Regions from separate parts of the Homo sapiens genome. Here all the other regions are linked to region 5. Evidence: fine-mapped expression QTL. A gene starts in region 5. Each other region holds a variant in brackets. All regions are shown on one strand. Distances are between the middles of the regions. Region 1 holds the start of LINC02035 (long intergenic non-protein coding RNA 2035). Region 2 overlaps PARP14 (poly(ADP-ribose) polymerase family member 14). Region 3 overlaps PARP14 (poly(ADP-ribose) polymerase family member 14). Region 4 overlaps HSPBAP1 (HSPB1 associated protein 1). Region 5 holds the start of HSPBAP1 (HSPB1 associated protein 1).

What was found. PIP is the estimated chance that this variant, and not a neighbour inherited with it, causes the effect.
Region 1: its variant is fine-mapped to the expression of HSPBAP1 in whole blood (INTERVAL, PIP above 0.99).
Region 2: its variant is fine-mapped to the expression of HSPBAP1 in whole blood (INTERVAL, PIP above 0.99).
Region 3: its variant is fine-mapped to the expression of HSPBAP1 in thyroid (GTEx, PIP above 0.99).
Region 4: its variant is fine-mapped to the expression of HSPBAP1 in lung (TOPMed, PIP 0.96).

The regions. Positions count from the first base shown.
Region 1 is chr3:122,885,136-122,889,254 of GRCh38, reverse strand. LINC02035 (long intergenic non-protein coding RNA 2035) reads right to left here and starts at 2,742. Exons shown (of 1, transcript NR_024618.1): 1 at 1-2,742. The variant C/TC (reference allele first, on the strand shown) is at 1,677.
Region 2 is chr3:122,702,723-122,706,841 of GRCh38, reverse strand. It overlaps PARP14 (poly(ADP-ribose) polymerase family member 14), which reads right to left. Exons shown (of 17, transcript NM_017554.3): 7 at 2,864-3,100; 8 at 2,094-2,315. Among named protein-coding and RNA genes, the nearest start is that of PARP14, 24 kb to the right of the region's middle. The variant G/T (reference allele first, on the strand shown) is at 1,752.
Region 3 is chr3:122,682,653-122,686,771 of GRCh38, reverse strand. PARP14 (poly(ADP-ribose) polymerase family member 14) reads right to left here. Exons shown (of 17, transcript NM_017554.3): 2 at 1,454-1,587. Among named protein-coding and RNA genes, the nearest start is that of PARP14, 3.9 kb to the right of the region's middle. RefSeq lists enhancers at 3,520-3,709, 3,730-3,809. The variant G/A (reference allele first, on the strand shown) is at 2,139.
Region 4 is chr3:122,751,407-122,755,525 of GRCh38, reverse strand. HSPBAP1 (HSPB1 associated protein 1) reads left to right here. Exons shown (of 8, transcript NM_024610.6): 5 at 95-266; 6 at 2,852-2,935. Among named protein-coding and RNA genes, the nearest start is that of HSPBAP1, 40 kb to the left of the region's middle. The variant TTCCA/A (reference allele first, on the strand shown) is at 2,325.
Region 5 is chr3:122,792,188-122,796,306 of GRCh38, reverse strand. HSPBAP1 (HSPB1 associated protein 1) reads left to right here and starts at 2,476. Exons shown (of 8, transcript NM_024610.6): 1 at 2,476-2,690. The coding sequence starts at 2,627. It overlaps SLC49A4 (solute carrier family 49 member 4), which reads right to left and starts at 1,238. Exons shown (of 9, transcript NM_032839.3): 1 at 772-1,238. The coding sequence starts at 1,114. RefSeq lists a silencer at 912-1,401.

The DNA of each region.
Region 1 (4,119 bases), 93 kb before region 5:
CAGATGGTTCAATAGAGTAACCTTTTCCCAATTAGATGGAAGGACAATTACAGGCAACAGAATATAGCACGGAGCTTCTGTGCCTAGGTGGTCTATATTAAACTTGAGTAAAAAAAGAACAAATACAGGGACTTCTCTATTCTGAGATAGAAAAGGGTCAAACATTAGGACTAAGGTATCAATTGATTTCTTTTTCCTGAAAAGGTCAAGTGCAATTGACAAAAGAGGAGGAGGGAGGCCCAAGGTAGGGATTCTTTGGGACATGGGGCAAGGATCCTGGAGCCAAAACCCAAGGGACAGCGGAGGTATGGAGGAGAGGGATGGCTTTACTGGGGATACCTGTATTACTTACTACAATGATTTCTCAGCAATAACTCATTGATCAGGAAGAGTGAGTGCAATGCGAATTAGTGAATTCAGGGAAGGACTAAGAACCACCACCTTCAACACACACACTGAACTCTACTGAGCAGGCCCTATTCTTCCTATGGCAGGTAAGATGGGATCGACTCCCTCTCATGACTTCTTCCAGGCACTTTCTGAGTCACAGACCTAAACAGAAACAGGTAGTTATGTGTGTAGGCCAAGGAAGTGATTTTGTTTGGGACTTGTGGATGCAGTGTATTAGGATGGAGGCGGGATTTTCTTAATGCTTAATTTTCACAAGCCTCCAAAATGACATATTTCTGGTGGGGAGGGAAGTAAATTCGGAACTCGGGGCATTTGTAGTAAATGAAATAATTGGCAGGAACTAAAACCTGCCCTTTTTAGCATTCTTTGGGTTTCTGCAAAGGCTCAGGGGGCTGGGACTTCACTAGCAATACATCAAGTGTGATTAGGTTTACTCACACGTATAAACTGAAGGGTTTCTGCAGTCTCCAGCCCCCAAAGTAGCCCTGCTCTATGTGGCTACCTGATATCCCAAATTCTACCATTAGAAAGCCCCCTTTTGGTATTTAGCCTTTGTTCTTGTTAGTATTCAAATTCCCCTTAGAAAGGAGACCCACAAAGCCTTATGAGTATAAGCATCTTAGCATGTATGCATTTGTTAAATTTTGTCTTAAGAGAAGGCTGGGGTACCAACAACATTCCCAATTTCCCATAGGAGTAATAACCAATTCCTCAGCCATGGAATGATGGTAGGGTTGGGATTCCTCATGCAAAAATTAATTCTGTGCCTCCAGACAGATCCAGATCTTACTCATGAAAAGAATATCAGTGGGACAGAATGTCTTTTCCTCAAAATCAGTTATGGTTTATGATTTGAGAACAATATATGGGCTCCTGTTATGCATAATTATTTGGGAAATTGTCACTAGCTCTTTGTAATTGTTAGTTCAGGAGTGTGTTTTTTAAAAAAAAACCTTCTGACTGGGCATGGTGGCTCATGCCTGGAATCCCGGTACTTTGGGAAGCCGGCAGGAGGATCGCTTGAGGCCAGGAGTTCGAGAATGGCCTGGCCAACATGGCAAAACCCCATCTCTACTAAAAATACAAAAATTAGCTGGGTATGGTGGCGCATGTCTGTAGTCCCAGCTACTCGGGAGGATGAGGCACGAGAATCCCTTGAACCCGGGAGGCGGAGGTTGCAGTGAGCCAAGATCACACCACTGCACTCCAGCCTGGGAAACAGAGCAAGACTCTGTCTCAAAACTATCTCAAAAAAAAAAAAAAAA[C/TC]TTCATTTTTCTGATTATCTTTCACTGCCATGTAATTGTACATATATAAATTACTCTGCATACAGAATGAATAGTATACATGGATGAAGGAACGAATAGATATAACAGTCTGAAAGTTTCCCTAATGCTGGCACCTGTAACACATCACTAACAGGGCCTTGTAGAAGTTCCTTATTGGTTTGAGAAGATAATGTATAAACTGGGAGTACTGGTGGAAAAGTATTGCACTCATGTTTTCTACTTTTTGGTTGTGTGTGACCAAGGGGTATAGATCAGAGAACTGTAAAACTTTTCAGCAAAAAGAAACATCTTCTCTGACCCTCCTATTTCAGAAGTGAGGAAGCCAAAGTTCAAAGAGAACAGATGACTTGCCCAAAGCCCCATGTCTTCAGCCATGCAGAAGACAGACGCCCAGACTTCCTGACACTGAGGTTGGTCTTCTGGTTCACTTCTCTCTCTCAGAGCTATTAATATTATGCTCACATTATAGTCACGAGGAAGTCTTGTTGGCCGGACATGGGGGCTCACGCCTTTAATCCCAACTCTTTGGGAAGCTGAGGTGGGAGGATTGCTTAAGTCCAGGAGTTCAAGACCAGCTTGGGGGAACATAGTGAGACCCCTTCTCCATAAAAAATAAAAAATTAGCCAGGGGTGGTGGCATGCGCTTGTAGTCTTAGCTACGCAGGAGGCTGAGGCAGGAAGATCACTTGAGCCCAGTAGTCTGAGGATACAGTGAGCTATGATCATGCCACTGCACTCCAGCCTGGATGACAGAGACTGTCTCAAAACAAACAAACAAACAAAAAAACCCTTGTTTACTAACACTTGAGTACAGATCATTCCTTGACATGCTGAAACTTAGCTCTTATTCTGTAAAATATCTGCACAGTTTACTGGAAGAATCTGACCATGTGGAGATGGCATCATTGCAAAGCAACTTACAATTCTTTGATGCCTTAACTAAAGATGTAAGTTCAAGGATTGGCTTTACTACCTGACCTAACAGTTTTGATTTCTACAAGTGCAAACCCATGCTGCCTCATGATGAATCCAATCAAACCAAAGGACTCGTATCTCGTTTGATCTGATTCTGGTGAGCAAATGCAGTACCCCGACCTGGCTCCCAGTATGCTATCTCAACATCAGATGACAGATTTTTCTCTTATTGCATTTGATACATTTAATAAACCCTGTGTTTCATATATAAAGTCCTTTGGGAAAATAAACAGCACCTGCAGCTTATCTCCTCCCACAGACACTGAAAAAGCAATTTCTTCTTATTGAATGTGGATGCAGCATAAGATTTCATATGTTCACGTACAGGGCTCACATGAGGGGGGCTACCGCACAAATGGAAACACCAAGGTGCTGGGCACCTCTCCAGCTTTACAGACTGCACATGCTTTGGTCATGTTCATATTTAAATAAGAATCAACTGGTATTTCTGAATTAGAAGAAATCTAAGGGAACATTTTTGCTCACTCCCTCATTTTAGAGATGTTGCTAAAGGAGAAATGAAGTGACTTGCTCAAGGTCAAATAGCTGAAGTCACCAGGCCAGGGTTAAGAGCCAGACCCGTGGGCTCCTACACCAGTGCTCTTTTTCTCTGTCCTCTCTAGTAGGGTCCATGAAGAATCTGCATGCCCGGCTCTCTCCTCTCCACCGCTGGCAACTCGTAAAATCTGGGTGTCACACAGCTCGCTCCCAAGCATTGTCAGAAATAAGAAGACACCATCAGAAAGGGGAAAGCTGGATGGGCAAGAAGACAGGAAAGGAAAAAGTGACCAAATGAAGCTGAGCTTCTGGCCTGCTACAGTTCATCATTTCTACTGACAGCTTGAAAATTAGGAAAGACACAGAAGTTGACCAGGAAACAATAAGAATTATCAGAATCTCCATTAGCTATTTTTTCAAAAAACGAAATTGCACAAGCCAGGCTGGGCAACATGGTGAAACCCCATCTCTACGAAAAATATAAAAAATTAGCTGGCATGGTGGTATACACCTGTAGTCCCAGCTACTTGGGGGGCTGAGGCTGGAGGCTTGCTTGAGCCTGGAAGATTGAGGCTGCAGTGGGCTGAGATCACACCAGGGCACTCAAGCCTGAATGACAAAGTGAGACCCTGTCTAAAAAAAAAAAAAAAAATTGCACAAGATTATTCTTTTGGCTTCTGTTTTCTATAATATTGTGTGCCTCTGCAGAGACAGGGAAGCCAAGAAAGTCCTGTGGAGGAAATCTATATGGATTTCATAGGTCGGTTACTCACTTTCTTTTCTCACAGTACAGGGAGCTTAGTTGATGGTGTTAAGAACAGAAATTGTATTTCCAGTAAGAAAACACAATAGTGCATATTGGAACTCAACTCAATAATGCATATTGGAACTCACTTTTGAACTTTAGAATATGATAAAGCTTGATGGTACATAAGCAGGTCTGTGAAAC
Region 2 (4,119 bases), 89 kb after region 5:
GTGAATTTCATTTTTTTTTTTTTTGCCTGTTGGTGACCCTCCATAATCATCATTTTCTTCCTCCTTGTAAACAAGCAACAGATAATTTTGTTGGAAAAAAAACAAGTAACATCTTGGCTAAAGATAGATGCAATAATGGGAGAAGGAACCAGAGAGAGGGTAGAGCAAAGATCTCAGACTCACAGGCTTCTAGGAGCCAGGTAGGTAAGGCACATGTGTAAAGGTGGTCTGATTTGACTATGGAGAACTAGAGAACACCTGCCACTCAGCCATGGAAAACTTCCTGTCCCAAGCAGGAAGCCATGTTTAATGTGCCAGAAGTTTTGAAGTTTTAGGTTGTAGTGAATATCTAGAGTTTTATGTAAAATTTTTGATTTTTAAATGTTAGCAACTGATTGAAATTTTTTTTTAATAATCTAAATAAAGCACATCTAGAGGCCATGTTCAAATCACAGGACTGCTGCTTTGCATCCTCTGTGACAGTCTCCATCTATAAACATCTCGATAAGCTTTGCTGATTTTTTTGTGCAAATGTAACCAAAGTTTAACTGTCTTTAAAAGTCTAAAGAGAAAAAGTGTAACAGACACATACAGAGAATTTCAAATGGTACTAAAGGCATCTGTATAGACTAATTCTTTTTACAGAGTATTTGAAAAATACTCAGTCTTCAGGAAAGAAAATGAATGCTGAGGTTGCATGAAAAAGAGTGATATTTGAAGGTTCAGGTCTGTGTCACAGGACTCATGCTGTATTCAATCACCCATGCATTCAAAAACAGCACTTCATGCCTCTCATTTAGTTCATTTTGTGTATATAAATCTTAGCTCCAAAGTAATTGTGATTTATAGGAGGGAAAGTATGTGCTATTCCTATTCGTCCTGTTCCACGATCCACATCACCTTGCACAATGCAAGTCATAGGGAAATTATTTTAAAAGCTTCTGTTGCACAGAAGAGTAACTAATTATACGGGACAAGTAAATGGACCACATATTTTACTCAGGTGGTTTGGCTGCCTGATCAGAATTCAGGTCAGATTTACTTGCTTCCAAAGAACTTATAGGTAGTATCTAGCATCACAGAAAAATGAAGCATTACCTAAAAATTCAGATGGTCCAATGATCCACAGGTATCTCTTGGGTTGCTGATCTTAATCTGTTTGATCAATTTTTGCAGTACCTTGGGAGCTTTTCAAACACTGAATGTCATCTACTTTATTTGATTAAGTAAAGACTCGGAGTGCAGGGATAATGGCTTAAAAGCCTGTTGTGCTGCCATAATGCTGAGTCCAGTGGCTCTCCCACAGCTGATGTGAGCTGAATCATGAACTCATGATTGATGATAGTTCTGGTGTTTCTGGTCCCAACTCTCCTATTTACATGGGAATGTGCTAATCCATTCTAACCACACCTTCTGACATCTTCCTATTGATAAGGCCAGACTGTGCTTTTATACTATGTATTAAAATTTCTATGTCCATATGGAGGGAAATCCTATAGTCAACTCCATTGCAATATGTGGGCCTTATTTGGATTCTGATTCAAACACAAAGCTGTAAAAACAAAACGTTTATGAGATAGTCAGAAATTTGAGAATTGATTTGATAATTGGTTAAAGGAATTATTGTCCATTTATTTTAGGTGTGATACAATATTGTGGTTATGTTACTTTTTTAAAAAGAATTGTTATTGTTTAAAATAAATGTTGAATTGTTTATGGATAAAATGATATGTCTGAGATTTGCTTCAAAA[G/T]AATATAGAAGGAAGGGAAATAGATGAAGATAGAGATGAAACATATTGGCCATAGGTTGATAACTGTTGAAGTTCAGTGATAGGTACAAGGGACTGCATTATACTATTATGTCTACTTTTGGATATGTTCAAAATTTTCCTGAATAGGAAGTTAAATTTTTTCTACATCTGTAACTTTTCTTAAAATTTGTCATGCTACAACTACAACTACAAGTATAAACTACCTTCTTACTTTCCTGAATGGGGAAATGAATGAAAAAAGTATCCTGTTAGACCAAAAAGACATTTGAAAAAACACTAGGTCTCAGTTGCCAAAATAATCAGAAATTAGTGGCACTGTACCTGAATATTTTCATGATCACTCGGGTGCAGCAGAAAGTGAACCTCTTGTAAAGTTTTCAGCTGATTCTTGCTACTAAATTTGAACACCTCTGAAATGATTAATTCAGCGAATATGTTTTTAGGAAATCCCAAGTTTCCTGTTCCTATTGCTGGAAATGCAATTGATTTTAAGGACAAGCTCTCAGTGATCTCCATACATTCTCTGATTATGTCTTCCATTATCTGAAACGCACAAAGCACATCCTTATACATCTTGTCTAGAAATGGGAGTTAGAACAAAAAGGACAAGAATTTAGCAACTTTGTGAACTTGAATACTCCTTTTTGCTGTCAACACTGATTAAGGGCAATCAGAAGAGGAAAGAAAAATACAGGAGAAGGCAAGGAAAAGGAAAAGAGAATGCGAGAGACTTAAACACATTCACAATGAAGGAAAGAAGCAAAGCAACTACTGTTCTTTTCCTTCATTCTCTTCCATTCTTCACACCCTCCTCTGGCTTTCTTCACTAAGCAAGCAATAATATTATCTTCAGTAACCCTTCCCTGAGCTCCAATAATTATTGAGCACAATAATCCATTTATAGTATTAACTAGTCCTCAGGAGAAGTCAGCTACAGCTGAAAGAAATGGCCACATGATGGAATCTGCCAAAAGAGTGATTATTATGGAAGAGAAACAGACAAGGCCCAATCTATGTCCAATTAATATGCTACTAAAAGGAGAACCCAAAGGGCTACCCAACTTCATGGAGAATTCAAAACCAGGCCCAACCTTGAGTGAAGATGTGCTACCATTTCTCCACTCCGGAGCTACCACGTGAAGCACATAGCGACAGTCCAGATTCCAGCTGCTGGTTTTGAGCACTGTGCCCATGCTGACAGCCACCCCTTGTCCAACTGTGTCCAATTCCTCCTGGAGCTCTGGTCCAGCTTTTTCCAAGAGGGACTTAGAAAGAGGCCCTCTACTAAGCACGAGATCCAAGGGAACGGAGTTGACAACAACATCGGTCTTAAAGACAAAACCAAAAATTTGTTTCAAATTTTAACAAAAAGCATTCATCAATGATTACTATATTTGAGGCACTGGGCTTGGCACAATTGGAGACAACTAAGATGACTACGGTTTCAGTGATTGAAATATCAACATAAGACAAAGTGTGACTAAATACTTATTGAAGTGACACTTAGGAAAAAAAGAGAGCAGTCAAAAAGTAATCTATGAATGGTATGGCATCACTGAAGGAGTCCAGAGAAAGCTGTTTCAGTAACTAGTGAAGATACCATGGGCAATGTGGGGTTTGAGAAATGGGAAGAATTTCAGCAGGCAGAGCAAGACAGGGAGCAGCATGAACATAGGCATGGTGGGTTGTGAGCTGTGAACAGATTAATTTGATCTGAGAGAGCTTCTGCAGCAAAATGGTATGCTCCAGGCTAGAAATGTTACACTGGGGGTAAACTAGGGGGCCCACCTCGAGTGCCAAGACATCTGGACTCCCTGACAGAAAGGGAGCAGCCCCGGAAGCTTTTTCATCAGTGAATGTGAGCAGATTAATCGGGCTAGATTAGAGAGGTCAAGAGAACAGAGGAGAGGGAATGTAACCAAGTGATTTTCAAAGCTGCCCTGCCTGGGTCACTAAGGAGTAATGCAGAGCAGTTATTACAGCCATGGAAGCTAAGCATCTATGGGAGTGAAAGGAAAGCAAACTATGACTGTTTTTTGTTTTTTGTTTTTTTTTTTTGTTTTTTTTTTTTTTTTTAAGAGAGAGGGTCTTGCTCTGTCCACCCAGGCTGGAGGGCAGTGGCATGATCATAGTTCACTGCAGCCTCAAACTCCTAGGGTTCAAGTGATCCTCCCACCTCAGCATTCCGAGTAGTAAGGACTACAGGTATGAGCCACCATGCCTAGCTGGGAAAGAATGTCTTGATATTTGGTGTCAAAAGAGACAAGGAATGAAATTCATTCCCATAACTGATGCTTGGTCCAAAGAGTTTTTATTTAATTTTTTAAAATGAGACACAACATTATTT
Region 3 (4,119 bases), 110 kb after region 5:
ATTGAGGCTGGACTTGGTGGCTCACACCTGTAATTTCAGCATTTTGGGAGGCCAGTGTGGGAGGATCGCTTGAGGCCAGGAGTTCAAGGCCAGCCTGGGCAACATAGTGAGACCCCATCTCTACAAAAAAAAATTAGGAAAAAAAATTAGCCAGGCATAGTGATGCATGCCTGTAGTCCCAGCTACTTGGGAGGCTGAGGCAGGAGGATCACTTGAGCCCAGGAGTTCAAGATTACAGTGAGCTATGGTGGTGCCACTGCACTCCAGCCTGGGATACAGATGAAAGCAGTCTCTAAAAAAGATAAAAATTAAATTAAGGACGGGTGTGGTGGCTCACACCTGTAATCCCAGCACTTTGGGAGGCCAAGGCAAGTGGATCACATGAGCCCAGCAGTTCAAGAGCAGCCTAGGCAACATGGTAAAACCCCGACTCTACAAAAAATACAAAAAATTAGCCAGGTGTGGTGGCATGTGCCTACAGTCCCAGCTACTGGGGAGGCTGAGGTAGGAGGATCACCTAAGCCCAGGAGGTCAAGGAGGCAGCAAGCCATGATCATGCCACTGCACTCCAGCCTGGGCAACAGAGTGAGACCCTGCCTCTAAAAAAGAAATAAATAAAACAAATACAAATAAAACATTTACTGAGTGTTTATTATATATAACAAGAACTGTGTCATGTGCTTTATACAGATCATCTTGTTCAACCCTCACAATAATCCTGCAATCTGTTGTTGGATCATTAATGTTACTATTCCATTTTACAATTGGGGTAATACTTAATACAGGTAGTATGGATTGCTGTCTCCTCAAAATGACATAGAAAATAAAACAAATATAACAGGTTACAGGTTATAAAGAACTCTGGAGACACAGACCCCAAATTTTACATCCAAAACCACCATTATTATAATCCCCAAATCTTGGCTTTTCCAAATGTGTCTAAAATCACATAAAAAGTACCCCCAGCAGGGTGCGGTGGCTCATGACTGTAATCCCAGCACTTTGGGAGGCCTAGGTGGGCCGATCATGAGGTCAGGAGTTTGATACCAGCCTGGCCAATATGGTGAAACCCCGTCTCTACTAAAAATATAAAAATTATCTGGGCATAGTGGCATATGCCTGTAGTCACAGCTACTCAGGAGGCTAAGGCAGAAGAATCACTTGAACCCAGGAGGCAGAGGTTGCAGTGAGCCAAGATTATACCACTGTACTCCAGCCTGGTTGACAGAGCGAGACTCCGTCTCAAAAAAAAAAAAAAAAAGTACCCCCTCCTACTTTATCCCATACTACCCTACCCTACCACTGCCCTCACTCCCCCTACATTTGTAATCTGCTTTTCTCGCTGCAGTTTGCTTCATGCTTTTCTTTCCACTATATTTTCTTCATGGTGATTCCCATCTCACACACCTTGGGAGACCTAAATCCCTTTTATTCATGCCTAAAGTTTACTTGCTTTTGTTAGAAGTTCCTCTTCAAAGACATGATCGATTTCATCTGGGGTTGCAGGTAACTGGACAGTTAACTTGAATGTTCCTTTTCCTTGCCATACCAACTCATGATTTTTTCTCTCCAGAACCTTCTGCCGAACTGAAATGTCCAAAGGGGGGAAAAAAGACAAATGACAAGCAATCTTTATTTACAAAATTATTCTATGATTTCCGTGGGCTGCATTACCATCAATCAATGGCTTGGTCGGTTTCTCAAGAGAGGCTATATGTGAAGTAAAAGAGGAAAAGTTTAGCAAGCAAACATGGATTTGAATTTCTTCCTTAAACTGACTTTTTAATATTGAGCATGTTCCCTAATAAGCCATACTTATAAGGCCTCAGTTTTCTTGTCTATTTGTAAGGTTAATGGAGACTGTTTTGTATGAGTGCCACGTGTATTAAATTGAAGAAACATTATAAAGAACTTGGTACAGGACCTGACACTCAGGAGGTACTCAAAAGGTAGCAATATTTATTCTATATTGAAGTGAATTAAATTAAAGCATCCTTCAATGGGAGCCAGTGAAGATTGGGTACTGGGACATGCCATGATGAAAGTCACGTTTTAGGAAGGTGGCTAGGTGGCTGTAAGCAGGAGCCTAGTTAGAAACAGGTCTCACATCTGATAGTAAAAGGAGTATAAAAGAAGGG[G/A]GAGATTTTTGCAAAAAAAAAAATGAACAAATTAATAGATTAGCATATCAGGCAGCTTGGCTGTAGTGAAACAACTGAACAGTGGACATAGAGTCCAAAGATCTGGATTTGAATTCCAACTCTACCACAAATAGCTGAGTGAATACCTTAACTTCTCTCAACTCTCAGTTTCCTCACTTAAAGTGGTGTCCATGAATGCACACTGTAACATCCTCAAGAACTACGCAGATGTGAGTTACGATTATAAAAAGGAGCAGCCAGAGAGATATGAAGAAAATCAGCATATCTCAGTCCATGAAGAACGGGAAGAAGTGAGTTTCAAGGAGGAGGCATGATCAACATAGTCAGATAGTACAAAGAGGTCAGGGAAAAAAGGAGTTTTTGAGAGTGCCCTACAGGTCACAGGTGTAGCTCTAGCATGAATGTTGGGTCACTATGCTGTGTTCTGATATGGCTGGCCTGATGAGGCCAAGGATATAGATCAGAATCTTTCATGAATAGGAGCATGATAGCTTTCCCACCTCAACCCTCTGTGAAGAGGGTGGAGGAAGTGGGGTCTTAATTGGATGCCAACTCAGAAATAGGCCTCAGAAACAACCTGAGAAGGAACGCCAGCTTCTAATCTCACTCTTTATGAGGAGGGCAGATGTTTCCACACAAACTCCTGAAGGGCTTTACTAAACCAAGGTGGGGATTGAGGACTGGATAGGACCCCTGCAGCCTGACAACAAGCTAAATTTTGTAAGTCAAGTTATTTAGAGTCATGGACCTCTGTGTTACAGTCCTTTTCTTATTCCCTAGACTTTGATAAAGTCCTGTCTAGGCATCTAAATGTGCCAGTCTGTTCTCAGATTGTGGGCAATATTTATGGGCACAAGTATTTCAGGAGAACAGTTGGTAATAATATGGGTATATGATCTCCAAAAAGGAGAAAGTCAATCTGGGAGGAAAAAGCTGAAACTCTGATGTCCAACCTCCCTTACCCAAGTGGACAGTCTTCCACCTGCACCAACTTTAGATCATCAACATTTAATTTTATTTAAGGAGAAGATGGGTTCTTACCACAAGGAACCCGACAACAACCAGGAACCAAACTATGTTGGTAAAGTATGATAAAATAGACACATCTGAAACAGGGCTTAAAATGTTATGTCAATTTACACCAACTTTTCAGAAATCCAGTGAACTATATAAAAGTGAGATACAGCTTCCCATTTGTTTCTATTTGCTATACATGAATAAATACGGAGAAGTGCTGGTGGGCTCATTCTTGTTATCTGCCTATTACAGTTTATATGAATCAAATCAGGTTATGCTATGGGCCCGCACCTGTTGAGGCCACTTCCTGGCATGGAGGGTGGAGAGTGTCCTCTGCAGAAGAAGAATGCACTTCTGGGACTTCAAGCGTAGGTCATTCATTGTTAGCAAATTCCTGACCCTTGTTACTGAGAAAGTGGTTCCTCAAGTAGGAAACTGAAACTGACTAGGGATTTTCCACCCCCAAGAACTTAGACCATACTAGGTTTCGAGTTTGTTTTTGTTTGTTTGTTTCTTTTTGTTTGTTTGTTTTTGTTTTGTTTTAGATGGAGTCTTGCTCTGTTGCCAGGCTGGAGTGCAGTGGTGCGATCTCACCTCACTGCAACCTCTGCCTCCCTGGTTCAAGCAATTCCCCTGCCTCAGCCTCCTGAGTAGCTGGGACTATAGGCGCACACCACCACGCTCGGCTAATTTTTTTGTGTGTTTTAGTAGAGACAGGGTTTCACCATGTTGCTCAAGGATGGTCTCGATCTCCTCAACTCGTCATCCACCTGCCTCAGCCTCCCAAAGTGCTGGGATTAACAGGCGTGAGCCACCACGCCCGGCCGGTTTTGAGTTTTAATAAGTTTTGGGTCATCTGTGCTGGGGGGTAAGACAAGAGGGGCCACTGGAGCAGCCTGGGGGTGGAGGAAGAGGAGTAGTGGGCTGGGGCCGGTCAAGGATG
Region 4 (4,119 bases), 41 kb after region 5:
CAAGTAAAAATGAACACTTAGCTTTTGTCTTCTTCCATGTTTTGTCTTAAGGTCAGAGTACTAACTTGTATCTTTTTTTTTTTTTTTTAATTAGGAAACGATGGCATCTCTTTCCTCCTGAAGATACTCCTTTCCTTTATCCAACTAGAATCCCTTATGAAGAATCTAGTGTGTTCAGTAAAATCAATGTTGTCAATCCTGATTTAAAGCGTTTTCCTCAGTTCCGGAAAGCTCAAAGACATGCGGTTACACTGAGCCCAGGACAGGTAATAGGGCTTTAAAACATTAATGACCTGCCAGGGGACACCACAGCTGTAACTCTCTCAAGTCCTTATGCTGTGTGCTTCCCCTCCCTGCGCAGTGCAAATGAGAATGGCTTCCTTCCCTCTGCTCTGCTGTTGGAAGGTAGCTTCCCCAGTTGTAGGCTTCAGACACATACACCTCTGCTTCACAGGTCCTGGAAAGGAAATGGCAAGAGGGAACACAGCTCCTCCTATTGGTAAAGAGGAGAATGGACTTTGGAGGAAGACAGTCTACAAGAGTCATTTTCATTTAGGTCAGGAGAAAATGTTCAAGGCATGGGTACTCGAGCATCTCTGGAACATTTAATCACAGTTAGTATCTGTTCAATTATGATAGCACTGAACCCAGACACATAAACACAGGTCGGAATGCCTCCAGGTGTGGGCCAACGGGCAGAAGGAACCGAGAATGTTTGCTTTTAAGCAAAAATGGATGTTGTTTTCATAAATTACTAACTCTGAAACATTTCCAAAGGTACTGTACATAGTGCTGCTTCCCAGTGAGGAAAATTTCCTTTTCAACATTGGCACTTGCTGTCTGATATTTCATTAATAATTTGAAAGGTTTTCTTAGTCACTTAAGAAGATTTTATTCTCTCGATTATCCCTCTCCCTTGCCTGTCTTCCATCCATTGTACCGGTCTCACTGGCTCTTTTCCTGCTTCCTTCACTCAAGTACTATCAACTCAAACAATTTCACTTGACTGAGTTGCCTCGACCTGTTAGTCACTCTGCATTCCCCTCTCCCCACAGCCCCTGACAACAACTAATCTTTTTCTATCTCTAGATTTGCCCATTCTGGACATTTCACACAGTGCAATATTATAATACAGGGCCTTCTGTGTCTGACTTCTTTCACATAGCATAATGTATTCAAGGGTCATCCACGTCATAGAATGTTACTAGCACTTCATTTCTTTTTTATGGCTGAATAATATTCCATTGTATGGATATACAACATTTTGTTTATCTGTTCATCAGTTGATGGACATTTGGGTTGTTTCTGCTTTGTTGGCTATTATAAGTAATGCTACTTTGAACATTCATGTACAAGTTTTGTGTGTACATATGTTTTCAATACTCTTGGGTATACCTAGGAGTAGAATTGCTGGGTTATATGGTAACCCTGTGTTTAACTTTTTGAGGAGTTGTCAAACTATTTTCCATAGCAGCTGTACTATTTTGCATTCCCACCAGCATTGTATGAGGGTTCCAATTTCTTTTTATCTTTCCCAACACTTGTTTTGCTTTTTTATCATTATTTTTACAGCCATTCCAGAGAGTGTGAAGTGGTTGCCAATTCATTTTCTCTTCTGTGTTTAATAGCCAAATTTGAGTGATTGGTTTTGCCTATTGTATCAGTTTTCCTTACATCCTATCCATTCTTTAATCCACTCAAACCCAGCTCTTTCTGTCACCACTTTACTGAAACTTTACTCTGATAGGACATGCATAACCTACTAATGACTATCAAGTGGCCTTTTATAGTTTCCAGTTTTCCTGAAAGGATCTCTCTTTCTATTTCCCAGTCCTGCCTTGTTCACAGCAAATACCAGTAGTTTCCTAATGTGAAGCCCAAAAGCTTCACATCATTTCCATCTACTCTGCTCTTAATAGGAAATCTCATACTGAGTCTGGATAGATGCCATCCTTCTTGACTCTGCCCATTGCTTTTGTTTATTATACCTTCCTATTTATATCTTAACGTTTAATAAGTGGACCTTTGCAAGTATCTCCTGTCCTTCTCAGACTCTCTCGATACCACTATTTTAACCATCCCCCTACTTAGAATTTCTCAACAACTCCTAGTGCCTACCAGATAAAATCTAGATTCTGAAGTCCGCTGTCCCTAAACTAATTCCCCTACCTTATCTCCCATTATTCCCTCTGTGATAGTAAGACTGACCTACTTGCTATCTTCTGTAGTCCTACCTCCCTCACCTGTACCTCTTATCCTTCCTGGCATGTCCTCATTCTTTCTGTGTCTAAATTCTCTCCTAGCCCGGGTTCAAATCACACTTC[TTCCA/A]TCCATGTTGCCCCTGACCTCCCTAGTTCATGCCTGTTTCACCCACCTCTGAAATTCTGAAACACCATTGTCCCCTGATTTACCACTTCTATAATGCCACCTTTCTATACTTTATCTTCTCATTGGCTAGATTTTGAGCTGTGAGAAAACAGAAGCCACGTCCTATGTGTTTTACCTATGCCCTTTCTCAGAATGCACGCAACTATTTTGTGACGGAAAGGAGGAAAAATTAGAATCTCAGAATCATGTACTAAGATTTAGGTGCAGACAAAGAAGGCCCAGGATTAAAGAGAATAGAGATGCTGGCAGTATCCTTTGTAGAACATGTGAACTTGTCAATAAAAAAGGAATAAAAGGAAAAAAGGTTTGCGGGGTTTTTTTTCTTACTTTACTTTTCTCCAGCAATATTATTGTGAATTCATTTGTATTCCTTTTTTTCCTAGCAGCCTCAATTAGGGTCTGATTCTGACATAAAAATGAAACGTCCTGTTCTTGTGCTAACCATTCTTTGTTTGGTTTTCAGGTTCTCTTTGTTCCCAGACACTGGTGGCATTACGTAGAATCCATTGATCCTGTCACTGTCAGTATAAACTCATGGATTGAACTGGTACTTTTTCGTTGTTTTTTTTTTTTTTTTAAGTAAGTGCAAATCATGCTTTTAAAAGATATATAAGGTCTGGCTGTACAACTGGGTAATTAATTTTTTTTAACCAATGCTTCAGTATTTTTTTGTTGCAGTGCACTATAACGTATGCATTCTGTCTTCTGTTAATGGATGTTTAGGTTGGAAATTGGAATTTTAGTGGTGTGCCACTCTCTTTCTTTTAAGGACACAGAATGCGCCTGATGCTGGCATGCAGGGTCCTTTCCCTTGACCAGTGTTGTTAGGAAAATTGTATTGGGCCTGGCCAGATTTGCCGATATGTGTCCCTTGTTGCCGCTCCTCTTTCACACCATCTGGGCTGGAAATACCTGCTTCTTGGTTCAGGGTCATTACTAATTGCAGAATTCTGTCTTGGCTTCTACATATTCTCAAAGCGGAGTCTTTCTTTCAGTGCTAGGTTTTTATCATTTCATTTCTGCCAGAAGCCTTTCCCTCTGATGTGTTAAGCTTAATCCTGGTTGCCTGCTCTATTTGACAATTAGAATAGCTGCTTGTTATGCTCAAGTCTGTCTCTTCAACTGGGGCCTTAATTGCAGCTGCCTCTCTTTAACCAGAGGCCCTGACTGCATCTCTGCTCTCCTTGACCTGAAGCCTGGATTGCATCTTTCTGCTCTGTTTGACAGCCGTATCCTCTCCCTAGTCTAGTTTTTCCTATCCTTTGCTAATAGGAATGGCTTTGGAATCAGTGGAACAGAAGGAATATTGTTACAGAAAGCTATGTTGTGTGGGCTTAGTGAAGAGTTGTAGCCCTTGAGGCTTAAGTGAGAGGTATGGCAGGAGATCAGTAGCGTCACAGAAATTTCGCCTATAGCATGCTGAACTGGAGTTGCAGCAGATGTCAAGGTAGAATCCATGGAGAACTTCCACTCCCAATGCCAAAGTCATATCTACAATAGCCCTGACAGGTGCTTCACCTCCCAAGGAAGTTCGCTTGTTGTTAAAGAGTAGAGCTGTCATCTTTTTAAAATATTTGAAAATACCTCCAAGTTTTTCCATAATCTTTTCTTCTTCCATGCTCAAAACCTCTTACTTTCTTTAATGGGGTGTTTTTATGGGTGATTTTTTCCTTTTTCCAGACTTTTTACCATTCTGGCCATAGACTTTGGAATCAGGCAACTTTAAGATAC
Region 5 (4,119 bases):
TAAAATCTTGCACAACAGCCTCTTGAGGGTAGACTGTCACTACTAATCATTTATCCATACTTATGTGGTAAGTATGCCTTGATTCTCAGCCCTATGGCTTTTTCTTCTCAGAGAATCACACTGGCAAGTGGTAAAGTGAGATGTCCAGGGTACCATTCTAAGCAAGCATCTTCACTCATCTGCAAGCTTTAATTGAAAGTCACAAATCTCAACTGAGAAAGCCATCTAGTCACATACACACATTTTAAAGCTGCCGAGCACCACCTTCCAGAAACCAAAGTGTCAGATCTGAGTTTCCCAATAGCTCTTCCTGGGCTGGAGTCATCTATTACACAAAACGAACTCATTATTTCCTTACATATGGGCACCGTCAATCTATTTTCCGACCTTTCATCCTCAACATCCCCATATCCCTTTGAAGTCAAAGCATCAGTCATTTTTGTCAGGTGTAAAACACATACACCGCACGTGCACGGGGATGCTCTGATGTTCACAATGTGTAAAAACTTGAACGTTTAGAGATCGCTTAAATCCCTGGTGTTGCATAAAGGGCCTTGATAAAAAACATAAATATTTGCAAGGTTGCCTTTCCATATTTGTCGCTTTGGGGACGGAGGGTTCCTAAGTCAGAAATGGAATGCTAGCAACACTCTATCACCTCACACAACCCCTATGCCGGGGCCAAGGGAGGCGGCTGGCAGGCCTGGAGCGCGGGCAGGCGCCTGCTCCCGGAGGAGAGACAGCGCGGGCTGGCGCTCCGCGACCCCTCACCTCTCTTGTCCAGGAGCCACATGAACGCGAAGCAGGGCAGGAAGCCGATGGGCCCCCACAGCACGAGCAGCGCGATGTCCCAGCTGGAGAAGCCGTAGGCCTGGCGCGCCGAGTTCTGGATGGGACCCCAGGTGTTCCAGACCAGGCCCTGAACGAACGCCAGCAGCGAGAAGAGCAGCAGCACCAGCCAGCGGCGCCCGTATACCCGCCCGGGACCCGGGACCGCCGCGGGCAGCGCCGCCGCCGCCGCCTCCCGGCTTCTCCAGGAGGCCCCCAGCCCAGGCCCGAGCCCGGGCCCCAGCAGCGGCTGCCTCTCCTCTTCGCTGCTCCAGCGAGAGCCCATGGCGACGCGTCGCCCGCGAAGCCACTGCCGGGCGCAGTCCGGGTCACCGCCGACTAGCCCAGCGCAGAATAGTCCTGAGCAGCAGGAGGCGGAGGCTGCTGTGGTCGCCCTCGGCCTCCGGACCGCGCCTGGTGCGCCTGCGCGGCCCGAGCCGGGCCGGCGGGGAGGCGGGGAGGCGGGGCAGGCGGCAAGGAGGCTGGGGTCCGCCCTCCCCTCCGCGGGTGGCGAGGAAACACCGGCGAGAGGAAAGGAGCCAGGTCCCAGACGGAGGGCAGGTAGCGCTGAAAAGGCAGGGACCAGCGCGGCTGAGTCGGGGAGAGGGAAACTCCCAGAGAGGCTGTATTCGAGGAGGTTGGGCAAGGAACCCTGGGGTGTTTGGAGGAAGTGTCCAAGTTAAATCTTGTGCCTAATAAACAACTCAGTGACCTGTTAAGTGACGTCAGTTAACCTGATGCTTGCTTCTATTTTGGGCTTATTCTCATTTTTGTTGAGTTAGTAACTTCAGAAATTATAGGCGAAGGATAAAGTTTAAGCGTAGTTGGTCCCAGGGGATTATCTCATAAAAATCATTTCTTACGTGCAATAAGTACTACCTATTTTTGTTACTTTTTTGTCTTACATATCCAAAGAGGAGATTCCAAACTAGCCAATTTCATTCATATATATGTAAACTTTACCCATTTCGCCTGCCAATAGGCGAGCAATAAAGGTATGTCCAGTAAAGTTGGAAGATTTTTGCCCCAAAGATCCATCTCCAGTGATTATGATTTGACCACAGGGTAAACGAGAAGAAAGGTGGTTGTTGATCTCTTCACACAGCTGTTTGTTTATTTTGGTATACAAATTCAGAAGCCTGACAGCTGTGGATTAGTGTCCTTGAAAACCTAAAGTCAAGCAATTTGGCTTGTCTGGATCGGGAAATGAGTCACAGGGAACGCAATCACAGGATTCTTTGCCCGAGGTTCGTATTTCCCGGCAGCCACTAAAATCAGAAGGAGTCAGGTTACCACCAGAAGGGCAAGAGAGGTGTAAGAGAAGCGTGAGCTAGCCTCGCATTCCAGGCTGCCAAGAGCGGCTCGCGAAAGCTCACGGCAGAGACCCATCCCACCGCCGGAGCCCCACTAAGCGGCAAACCTTCCCCTAAAACTCCAATCCTTTAGGGTGGAGAAAAGCCGAGGTGGAAAGGAAGGATCTGACTAGAAAAGGAGAAACAGAAACGAAGCTAAGACTACAATAAAGAACGCTAAGGTCCGGGTTAGGTAAAAAGCGCCACAACTCAGACCACGTGTTTGTATTTCCACACCCGGGGTATCAAAACAAAGCTGCGTGGTCCCGCCCAGCATCCGTCACGTGACCTCCACGTGAGAGCCGGCGTTTCCGTAGGAGCCGGGCGGGAGTCGCCGGGGCTCCTTCCTGTGGTGCAGCTTCGGGTCTCGGAGTTTGGCCCCTACTCTGACCCCACCCCAGCTCCGCTCCGCCTTGGGTTCCGGCAGAACCCGCCTTGCGGTAGCCATGGCAGCAGGCTCCGAGGCGACCACTCCTGTGATCGTTGCGGCTGGGGCTGGAGGGGAGGAAGGTAGGTGCCAGGCTGAGGTCCGACCCTGAGTACAAACCCAATGCCAGTTGACTCTCGTGGCACCCCTCGTGGGGCCGTTTGCCTTAGCCCCAACCCAGGTCTCTCTGGCCTTGCATTAGACTATGAAGAAAAATCTATATTTTCTAGTGAGCGTGGCATTTCTCGAATTGTGGCATCCAGATTTTTGATCGTCGTAGGGTAGCCTACGAGTGCTGTTTCACGCATGGGGTGTTATTTTTGTTTTGTTTTGTTTTATATTTGCCCATCATTAGCTAAATAGAGGTGTTTTGAACGTTTAGAGGGGATTAAAATTAAATTTGTGAAATTGAAGGCAACCTTTGAGATTAATGGAAGTTATCTGAGACTTTTGTGAACAGGGATTATGCGCTTTTATTCTATTTCAGTGAACCCTGGTTTAGCAAGTGGGGATGAGGTTTGGAGGCCCATGAGCCTGAGATCCCTGTTATTATTTATTGAATGATTGCACCGTGCAGGGCTGTGTTCTGAATACTGTCGCAGGATCCAGAGACTTTTGAATATTTATAACAATACCTTTTCCAAAGGAGCCTAGAAAGGAAAAAGAATGACTTACTATGTGGTCACCTGAACTATTCTACCAGTAGTACACTCTGTGAGGGTTGTTAGGAGGAGGGATCTCAGTGGGGAGAACATAAATGCTTCAAGGAGCGAATAGTTTGAGGTCGGCCTTTCTTTTTCTTTTCTCTCTTTTTTTTTTTTTCTTTTTTTGAGACGGAGTCTCGCTCTGTCACCAGGCTGGAGTGCAGTGGCGCGATTTTGGCTCACTGCAACCTCCACCTCCCAGGTTCAAGCAATTCTTCTGCCTCAGCGTCCCAAGCAGCTGGGACTACAAGCGTGCCACCACGCCCAGCTAATTTTTGTATTTTTAGTAGAGACGGGGTTTCACCATGTTGGCCAGGATGGTCTCGCTCTCTTGACCTTGTGATCCGCTGAGGTGGGCCTTTCTGATTGGATGAGATGGTGACAAACTCAGGGAGTGGTGCTGGGGTTCAGGAAGTCAGGGAGCAGAAAAGGATGGATGTATTTAGGGGTCAAACAGTTTGCTGAAGGGGGAGATGCCCATTCCAAGCAGAAGAAACAAATTATAGCCTCCTACTATCTGACCACTTTCTACCAGGGAGACAATTCTTGACCTTCATCTATACCTCCATTGCATTGATCTTTCCATTTTCTATCCACTGCACCCCCTTATCCAGAATGTATGTCGTTCCTTTGAAAAATTCTCTTGTCCCTTCCTGCACTTTTTTCTGACAAAACTCTTACTCTGGATGAAGTCAACCTTTTGCCCTCTTTGTACCTGCACCCGTGGGCCTGAACTTTGCTGGAAAAAGTCCTGCACAAACTGATGACCGTATAAAGTGAAAATGGCCAAACTCTTGAATATTCAGTC